Regions from separate parts of the Homo sapiens genome. Here region 1 is linked to region 2. The links come from fine-mapping of genetic effects on gene expression. A gene starts in region 2. The other region holds a variant in brackets. All regions are shown on one strand. Distances are from middle to middle.

Evidence for each region. PIP is the estimated chance that this variant, and not a neighbour inherited with it, causes the effect.
Region 1: its variant is fine-mapped to the expression of TMX1 in vagina (GTEx, PIP 0.95).

What each region holds. Positions count from the first base shown.
Region 1 is chr14:50,819,910-50,825,289 of GRCh38, reverse strand. NIN (ninein) reads left to right here. Exons shown (of 31, transcript NM_020921.4): 3 at 3,213-3,416. The coding sequence starts at 3,234. LOC105370489 (a long non-coding RNA gene) reads right to left here and starts at 3,493. Exons shown (of 2, transcript NR_135258.1): 1 at 3,339-3,493; 2 at 1,781-2,108. RefSeq lists a silencer at 2,915-2,974 and an enhancer at 3,435-3,484. The variant C/T (reference allele first, on the strand shown) is at 2,082.
Region 2 is chr14:51,237,052-51,242,431 of GRCh38, reverse strand. It overlaps TMX1 (thioredoxin related transmembrane protein 1), which reads right to left and starts at 2,185. Exons shown (of 8, transcript NM_030755.5): 1 at 1,988-2,185. The coding sequence starts at 2,139. RefSeq lists an enhancer at 1,907-2,146 and a silencer at 2,007-2,349.

The DNA.
Region 1 (5,380 bases), 420 kb after region 2:
TCTCAGTCTGTTCTATAGCATTTCACATCTCCTGCTTTGCTTCTTTGGAGGTAGATCTGTAGATAATTCACTTGTTACCTCCTCTTCAGTTTACCACTCCTTTGTAGCTGCAGGTATTCTTTTGGTTATCTTAAATTCCCTCTTGTATCAGCTTTCTCTGGAATTAGCCACTCTCGCTTGCTTGCCACATTTAACTCTCAGAACAAACCTTCCAGATGGATATTGTTATTCTCATGCTGTAATCGAGGGGACTTGAGAAAGGTTTTAGTATAGATTCTCCTCCAAAGTTTCATCCCATAGCAAGACAATGCAGTCGAAGTTTGTGAATCCATTTACTTAATTACTAGCCTATTGAATTAAACTTCAGACAGCGCTGCATGTTACAGATTGGCAGTTGGTGTTGGCTTTCTACTTCTTGCTTAGGAGGCTGAAAATGCCTTTGAGAAAGGGTGGGATGGGGGAAGTGGAGGTGTGTAGGTGGATGAGATGGGCATTCCAAAATTTTCATATGCCCATTTCTGTAGACCTCATTTAGGGTACGTTTCCTCTCAAGGAGTGATCCATACAGGAAGTCAATCCATGATATTTACCAAATCCCTGGCTTGAAGAACAGACTGACTGTAGTATGCATTTGGGGGAAGATATAAAAGAAATAGGAGCGTGGATCTTACCATTAAAGAACTTTCTGCCAAGTGGGGAGAAAAAAATTCTTGCACATGAAATTACTGATGAACATTTGGGAAATAATATCAACCAGTAAAAATGCCTTCTGTGCCAGATGAGCACTGACAACTTGTCACCATGCGTAACATCTCCTGGATGTTTCAGCGTGAGCATTTGTTCCACAGGGGTGGTGCTTGTCTCCCCTTCAGTCAAGCACAGTGTTTTGAGAAGGAAGGAGATGAAATAAAGAGATAAAGAAAAGAAAGCTGCCATAAAATGAAAGAGGTTTGATTTAGTGAAAATCCAATGACCTCCCAAAGAGTGGGGCATGATAGTATATCAAATTCGACACCGTGGATAAGATCAGGGCTTCTCAGTACATCAGTGTTTTATTCCTCTCTTTCATTGGTTTAAGATGGACAAATCCCCGCCCCTTAAAAATAATTTTTAAAAAGGGAAGTGTTAGAATTCTTTCGCTTTTGAGTTTTTAAACATATATGCAAAATCAAGCAAAAGAAGAGTCTTGCTTTTATGAGGTCGGTCAGATAACAGCCCAGGGGACTGTAAAACTCAGAGTGAGACTAAGAGCTACCGCAACACTGAAAATCCTGGAGCACCTTGGGGATTCTCAGCAGATCTTAGTTGACAATTAACTGGTGGACTCTAAGTGAATCTTGTTAGCGAAGTGTTGGCCTTGTCTAAATTCTTAACTCCTGTGGCTTTGCATAACAACTTGGTGTTTCTTTTCTGAGGCTTTGATGTTTATATAACACTCTCAACTTATTTTGAAAACATTTACATAGTGATTAGTTAACCCAACAGACCAATCCTGGGAAGACAGCCAGAGCCTGCAGCACCTTAGTAACAGAAAAACTGATAATTAGGAGAAGAGACCTGTCCAAGACCAGGAACCTGGACCAAAATTGTGCCATGTTGCTTTACTTTAATGAGTGGCCCCAGTAAAAACTGAGCTGTATGGCAGAGCTGTTCACATTTATCTTCTGTGTCCACCCAGTTCTGCTGAAACCCCTGGCAAGATCGTGGCCCTGTTGTAGCTTGTCATGTTTTGAACAGCTGTCTATGGAAAGAAAGCAAACACAACCTAGAGCAACATTGATTTGTTTTAGAAAGCTCTTTTATTTTCAGTTCTGGCTGTGTTCAACATCTTAGCTTACGTTTTTCATGTTGTAATGATCTGCCGTATGGACGATCACCTCTAAGTTAGAGAGTTCTGTAATTTGGCTTGGATTAAAGATGCTTGGTTAGTGAAAGCTGCTGCTTTTTTTATAGTCAAAGGACTGGTTCTGAGAGCCTTGTTGCAGATGGCTGAGGTCACCGTCCCAAGGGTGTATGTCGTGTTTGGCATCCATTGCATCATGGCGAAGGCATCTTCAGATGTGCAGGTTTCAGGCTTTCAT[C/T]GGAAAATCCAGCACGTTAAAAATGAACTGTCATGCAAGGAAAAAAAAAAAACCACAGATTTCATTAGTAAAATACGAGCTACCTGGAATTTTATGATGTATATTTTTAACAAAAATGACTCAGTTATTGACGTCTCCAAGTTTTTACTGATCCTAAGGACAGTGGCAAAATGGAAAGCCTGGAGTATGGGTAGGTGAGAGAGACGGAACACAGGTTAACCAGGCATAAAGAGATGAGATGCTTTAGTGAGTGGAGGTTCCCTGAGATGCTGTATGATTCATATAAACCAGTCAGTGGCTCCTTTAAACCTCACTGTCTGAAAGGTTGAAATAGTGTCTTCCCCTTTCTCTAGGCAACTAAGCATTACCTAAAACTCGCTGGGACTAAAGCAAGCTTCTGGGAATATTCTTCCCGTCACACCTCATGTAATTGCACCAGTGAAGTTAATTGAGTTGCTTTTTGAGGAACTCGTGTAAAAGGCATTTAGTTTCATGTAAAACAGGGAGGTGGTTTTGTAGCAGACGTCGTGTTCATTTAGTGCCTCTTGCTGCAGCCCTCCAGTCTAGCTATGATGGGGGCCATCTAAGCTGAATGAAGTAGAACGAATCAGCTTGGCCACGCTGACCGATTGCACCATCGGGGCAGGTTGTCTAAAGCTTGCCAGCTAGCATGGAAGCTCTGACCATGCAGTCTGCTGGCGCTAACAATTAGTTCACTTGAATAGTCTTGCTGTCAAAGTGGCTTTTCACCTTCTTAAAATCCTGGGCTAGAAGAGCTGGGAGAGAACCACCTTCAGCCTTGAGTTTGGCAGTCTGGCTGTCCGCCTGAGAACCAGGCAAGAGAGGAGGGTGTCTTCTACTGTACGTGACCCTCTCATTCTGGTAATTTTGCTCCCAGTGTGATCTGAGCTTATGTATATGCCCCTGATGTGAGTGCATGCAGGAGTGTCACTGGCCAGGGCTGGTCCTACAGAGACTGGGGGTCTTGCTGTGGGGTGCATCAGAAACTGGGTGTTCCCGAGCATTCCCTAGAGACTGGTGGGGTACAGAGAACGGGAATGTGCCAGGTGGTGACCACGGTAGGACTGGAGAGGCTGCCACAACCTGTCCTTGTCTCTGTCTTACACACAGGTGAGCACTGTGGGCTATGGGATGGATGAGGTGGAGCAGGACCAGCATGAGGCCCGACTCAAGGAGCTGTTTGACAGTTTTGACACGACGGGCACAGGGTCCCTGGGGCAGGAGGAACTCACCGACCTTTGCCACATGTTGAGCTTGGAGGAGGTGGCCCCAGTGCTGCAGCAGACATTACTTCAGGACAACCTCTTGGGCAGGGTAAGGTCTGGGGAAGAACGTGGCTATGGGAAGTGGGGTGCGGTTTCTGCCGGGGTGCTGGGGGTGGGGCGGACCACACATGTTGCAACTTGTTTCTAGCATCCTGGCTGTTACATGATAAAAAGAAGAATGTAATGGGTGTGACATCACAGTCCAGTTTGCTAGGGTGACAAGAGCCTGCTTTAATTTGTGCTCTGGAATTATGGTGTACAGTGAGCATCTTAGATAAAGAGGCAATGAAAGGATGTTTTCCAACTTTTTTCTTGTTCTTTGTGGTTTATTTTATTGACTCCACATTCATCACTGGGACAGAAAGGAGGAGGGTGAGATTTCCATTGAAGAGAAAGAAAATGCAGTAAGAAAGCTATTGTTATGACTTTTACTCCCAGTGAAGCTATTTCTTGTGTGGATTATTTCTGGGTGAAGTATTAATTAAACTTTCTACCCAGGAAATAAGACAGCAGGGTAAATAAATACAGTGCAGGTTCATTTAAAACCCAGCACGGCTTGCTTCCAGCAGGGATGTGTGTGTGCACGCCAATGTTAACCTCTGTGTTTGATGACAAATAGTCATGTTATTACCATAGATCAAGTCACAGATGTGAGTAAGAAGTGAGAGAGGGTCTTTTTTTCCTCTTGCCAATGGTGGATATTTGATCTGCCATGACCTGAGATTGCCTTCAATTCTCCTCATTATAATTAATAGCTTTTATTATTTGCCTTATTTATAATTAATAGCTATTTATAATCAATAGGTTTATATGGCTTTGAGTCAAGTCTCTTGCTGTTGGATTTTGGAATGATGAGAGAAAAAGATGGACAACACTTTTTGCAGTCTGTTGCTTCATTCTGGTTTTTATCACGTATAAATTGAGGAAGCAGTTGTGAGGCTTAACTTTATTCTAGTGACTGAGCTTCCTTTTCTTCATTTCATTTTCACTGTCTTTTAGCTGACAAGAGAGGTAAGTGACTTCAGATATAGTACCATGTATTGGCTTTCTGTAACCTGAGACAGACAGGAGTAGCCATCATCCTGAAATTCATGTGCAAAAGATGATATTCTCAGGCACTTGGCACATGAGTGTGATGTTAAATGGGACTCACACTTGAAAAAAATATGTGACTTCTTTGCAAAAACTGGAGCCATTCTTGGCCTCTTGTGGCGGGGGGAGGGTTAGCTGTCTCTACATACATGTGGTCCCCATAAAATGCTAAAAATCTTGCTTTAATAATCTTAAAATGAAGCTTCGAAGATTGAACCATTTGCTCCTCATGCACTCACATATTTTCCAGTTCCGCCTCAGTCTTAGACTCTGTGGGTAGCAAAAAAACTGGCATCTCCCAGTATGGTCCTTGGGGATCTCAGTACTTTTGGTGTCTAAAGGATAGTATCAATGGGCTGATCTGTTTTAATGCTCATTAAAGTCTGAAAAGGCATGATACAACTAAGGTTTCCTTGAGTGGTTTTCTTAGAGTCTGCGTAAATATGGAATGCCACGCCGTAAACAGACTGCACCTTGGCAGCAGGTCAATGCTTTGCTCTCCAGATGTTGCACATCTTTGCCCTCATTTGGTAGACTCAAACAGGGAGCAGTTATTGATTGATTTGTTAACGACTTGACACTACCAGCCTGCTTCTGACGCTTGCTATTTGCCTGAATAATGAATACTTAAGTGGTCTATAGTGTGATATTTACTTAGTGAGCCAGTGATAAAAGTTAAATAGATGGATGCATATTGATTTCATGTGGGAGGTCCCTGGTGATAGTCCTGAGAGTGGGGGGGTTGGCATGAGTTAATGCACTACTGTTAAATTTGCATTTTTTAATGAAACCAAATTATTCTCCTCAGATGATCACACAGACTTGGCCATATGCTATTAAGATACTCTATATGGTCCATAATTTTAAATTATAAGAAAAAATGCCATAGGATTCACTGGAGCCATCCAAGTGTTATCATTT
Region 2 (5,380 bases):
TGATTGCTGTATTTATATAGTTGGACCATAATGAGTTAAAAAATATCCTTGAGTAATACTTGACTGTATTTTGCATATACACACACGATCACTATTGCTTAATATATTGCTTATAACACTATTTTACAGGCACGATCTAAAACAAGTTACTCATGATGATGACTGAAAAAGTGTCACAGTTCCTCTCCCCTGAAGCTTTCAATGGTGCCTGAATGAAAATTCATTTCAGAATTGCAGACTACATGCATACTATGAAAATTTCCCTTTATCTTACCCTCCATATAAATGTTCTACTTTTTTTTTGAGATTGAGTCTCACTCTGTCGCCCAGGCTGGAGTGCAGTGGTGCGACCTCGGCTCACTGCAACCTCTGACTCCCAGATTCAAGCGATTCTTCTGCCTCAGCCTCCCGAGTAGCTGGGACTACAGGCGCGTGCCACCACGCCCAGGTAATTTTTTGTATTTTTAGTACAAACGGCGTTTCACCGTGTTAGCCAGGATGGTCTCGATCTCCTCACCTCGTGATCCACCGGCCTCGGCCTCCCAAAGTGCTGGGATTACAGGCGTGAGCCACCGCGCCGGCCAGTTTTGTTTTTTTAAAAAATAACACAGGACTTACTGATTTAGCCTTCTGGGTTCTCCCTTGGGGATGTCACTTTCACTGGCCTCCTTAACTTGACAACCCTTGCTGTATTCGTGACACAAGAAAACACTCACCTGAACCCTGTTGTCTTTTCATTTTTATTTATTTACTTATTTATTTTGCTAGTTGCCCAGGATCTCTTGAACCCCTGGGCTCAAGTCATCCTCATACCTCAATCTCCTGGGTAGCGTACGCCACTTCCAGCTGAACCTTTTTAAAGAAGAAGGTGTTCTAACAACAATTATTGTATGCCTACTCTGAAGACCCAAAGAAAGCCAGCACAGCAATATCTGCATAGGTTAACTAAAGTATTTAGGTATCTTGTTACTCATTTGTAAAACGTGAAAAACACCTGTCATAGAGAATTTGTAGGGAATTAAATATGGTATTCGTGTAAAGGTGCTTAGTGGTGTCCAGTACACTGTTAATAATTATGCTTTTACTATTATCAGTAAATACTGCTAATATGTATAATACCACCATCAACAACGACTTAGCATCTAAAGCAAAGACAGATACTTTATTTCCCACCGCGGCAGAACAGATATTATTAAATTGAAATCACCACACAAAATACATGATTTCGTTCGAGCAATAAATGATGACCTGGCGCTCTTGAGAGTGTATACATTAATACATTATCTTTTAATGTAATACCATTTACAAAGACCTAGGAGTCACAACCCAAGGTATTCTCTACACTACAAAGACACCCAAAGGAAAAATGAGATGAGGAGTGAAAAAAAGAGAAAGCAAAAGAGGAGGCAAAAAGAGAAAACGAAAACTTAAAAATAACCCAACTTGAATTGACTCAGTATTTACAATAAAAAAGAAACGTACCCAATCCATTAAAAAAAGCTTAAAAGCGCCAAATTCCAACACCATAAAGAGACTATCTTTTAAGGACAGACAAAACGAGAGGAGAAATTTTGCTCAATATTCTCTTATGTAAAATGTGGTGAAAATAAGTGTAGAAGTCTGTGAAGAATCACTTTAACTACTTAGACACGAGTCGGACACCTCCCTCCCCGCGCCCCAGTCGCATCCTCAAAGTCATGAAAAATGTCAGAATTCGCATTGGCACTAACCCTTTGGGCGCACCACAACCCAAGAAACGAAACGAGGGTGCACCCCAGAAGAAACTTAACATTCACGGGTAAGAGACGAGGGGGTGGGACCAAGCTGGCGGCAGATCCCAAGAGTTTGGGGAGCTGCAGAAGTCGGGGACGCTCGCTCCGCAACTCGGAGGCGCAGTCCTGGGGAGCCTGCGACCCGCACGAGGAACGTGCGGGGTGAAGTCGTGTGTCCAGGCACGGACGTAGGACCCTGGCCGCCCCGCACTCACAATTCTATCATCCAGTCTCCTTCCAGCAGTTCTCTCCAGTTCTCGTCCGTGATGACGCGAACGTTGCTCCGCCGCCCGTGCGTCCAGGGAGCACCCCAAAGCAACAGCACCAGGACTGCCAGGGGAACTGCAAGACTCCCGGAGGGCGCCATTTCGCCGCTTGCCCACCTCACAGGGAGCGCGGTCGCAGCTCCCACTTCCGCCCTCGCGGGCTGCTCAGCGCAAGCGCACTACGGTGCTGCGAGGAGCGCCTGTCTAGAGGACTCTCAATGCGCATGACAGGGGTCTGATCCCAGTGAGTGGTGAAGTCGGGAAAGAGGGAAGAACGACTCTCCGCAATGCGCATGACAGAAAAGCGGCTGCTTCTACCGCCTAGGGTGTCCCAATATTGTGGGGGAAGGAACAGAGCAAAAGGAGGCGTGGTGTAAAAAGTGGGGCGGTGCTTTGAGGAAGAACGGTTTAAAAGACCCTCCCAGGATTTTGGCGCCAAATGGTTAGCGTTTACAAGCAAATTGGTAAGTTTATAATGTGCTAAAGCAGTTTTCCAATTAAATGTCCTTCAGAGTTCTCATTTGTTTTCTTTGAAACATGTAGTAAAGCTAATGGATTTTATAGGAGTCGGAATATTGGTTTACTTCTGAGAGATTATAGACAGGGAAGGTGCAGAGGAACATTATGGTTATGTTGGATGTGTTGGAGGTGTTCAACATCTAGATATGAACAGTAGTTACATGGGCGTACGTATATGATTTTTTTTAAAGAAGGATCAAGCTGTACATTTTAAGACAGTGCACTTTATGCACTTTCAGGTGTATGTTATCTCTCAAAAAAAATTCAGTAGGTACAGAGATCCTAGGTCAGTACTTCAAAATGGAACCAGACACATAGGCTTGTAAGATATTTGAGTTTTTTCTCTCAAACATTCGTAAATACAAATGCAAACCAAAATGTGCACTGCCCCATCAGTCAAATGAAAATAGTTGCAGGTGCGGTGGCTCACGCCTGTAATCCTAGCAAAACAGGGAGGCCAAGGCAGGCGGATCACTTGAGGTCAGGAGTTTGTGACCAGCCTGACCAACATAGTGAAACCCCGTCTCTACTAAAAATACAAAAATTAGCCAGGCGTGGTGGCAGGCGCCTGTAGTCCCAGCTACTCAGGAGGCTGAGGCAGGAGAATCGCTTGAACCCGGGAGGCGGAGGTTGCAGTGAACCGAGATCATTCCACTGCACTCCAATCTGGGCTATAGAGAGAGACTAAGTCTCAAGGAAATAGTTGCCACTATCTTACCTCACCTTTTCAACTTAATTAACCCCAATTAGTCCCCTTCCCCACCCCTCCACTGAATAGCCCTCTCAAGGACACCAGCGACCAGCAAGATAAATCCCAATTGTTTCTTCTCAATGCATCTAGCATGACTCCTAGCCCCATTCTACCACACCCTTGAAACACTTTACTATCTTGCTGTCTGGGCAGCTCGCTTTTTTTTCTGTCCTACAGTAGCTGATTCTTCTCAAACTTCTTGGCTGGTCCTCCTTTACTTCCGGACATCGGCATCTCCAGGATGCTTTACTGCCCCCCGCCCCCCATCTCCCGCCACCTTTCTCTTCATATCATCAGGCTCTCATCTTTCTGGGAACTACAGGCATATGTATTCAACTGTATATCATTCAGACTCTGATCTTTCTGGGAACTACAGGCATATGTATTCAACTGTATATCATTCAGACTCTGATCCTTCTGGGAACTACAGGCATATGTATTCAACTCCTTGCTAAACATCTCTTGGGTATGTAATAGCTGGTGAAAGGAAAAGAAATCTTGGGGCCCCAAAATCATTAAGCTAAAGGGAAAAGTCAAGCTGGGAACTGCTTAGGGCAAACCTGCCTCTCATCCTTCTTCTCACTGAGATAAATGCATATCTGATTGCCTCCTTTGGAAGGCTAATCAGAAACTTAGAAGAATGCCACCATTTGTCTCTTACCCACCTATGACCTGGAAGCCCCTTCCTGGCTTCGAGTTTGTCCCGCCTTTGCTTTGAGTTGTCCCACCTTTCCAGGCCAATACAATGTTCATCTTACATATGTTGATTGATGTCTCATGTCTCCCTAAAATATATAATATAAAATCAAGCTGTGCTCCACCCACCTTAGGCACATGTCCTCAGCACCTCCTCAGGCTATGTCATGGGCGCGCATTCTTAATTTTGGCAAAATAAACTTCCTAAATTGACTGAGACCTGTCTCAGATTTTGGGGGTTCAGAAGCTCAAACATCAAACGGCCAAAAAAGATAATTCTTGATTCTTCCTCTCCTGGTCTTCCATCCACTAAAGAGCCCCGAGGTTCACCAGGTTTCTCTAGCCAAACATGTACATGTTAATTCTTTATTGTTCTCTCTCTTCACCTTCTCCTCTTGTAACCTATGAGCAAATCTTGTAAACGTTACCTTCAAAACGTATCCTGAATCTGACCACCAATTTCCATCTCAACAGCCAACACCCTAGTCCAGAGTTTTCTTGCCTTGAGTACAATGAGAACTTCCTAAATTTGTGAGAAAATAAATTTCTATTGTTTAAGCCACCCAGTCTATGATATTTTATTATGGCAGCCCAAGCTAAGACACTAGACCTCCATTACAATGTTGAATAGAAATGGCAAGAGTGGCCAAACATACTTATCTTGTTCCTGTTCTTAGGAGAAAAGCGTTGTCTTTTACCACTAAGTATGATGTTAATGTGAATTCTAAATAGTTGCCTTTTATACAGGTGAGGAAGTTTCCTTCTATTCCTAGAAGGTCGTCTGTTTTTATCTTGAAGAAGTGTTGAATTTTGACAAATCCTTTTTCTGCATTTATTGAAATGACCATGTGGTTTTTGTCCTTTACTCTATTGATATGGTGTTTTTTTTGTTTTTTTTTTTTTTTTTTTTTTGAGACGGAGTCTTGCTCTGTCATTAGGCTAGAGTGCAGTGGTGTGATCTCAGCGCACTGCAACCTCCGCCTCCTGGATTCAAGCAATTCTCTTGCCTCAACTCCCGAGTAGCTGGGATTACAGGCACGTGCCACCACGCCCAGGTAATTTTTATATTTTTAGTAGAGACGGGGTTTCACCATGTTGGCCAGGATGGTCTCTTTCTCTTGACCTCATGATCTGCCTGCCTCAGCCTCCCAAAGATACAGTGTATTACATTGATTGATTTTGGGACATGAAATCAACCTTGCATTCTTGGTATAAATCCCACTTAGCCATGGTGTATAATTCTTTTTATATATTGCCACATTCAGTTTGCTAGTATTTTGTTGCATATTTTTATGTCTATATTCCTTAGAGATATTGGTCTGTAGTTTTCTTGTAATGTCTTTGGTTTTGCTATCAGGATATAACTGGCCTCGTAA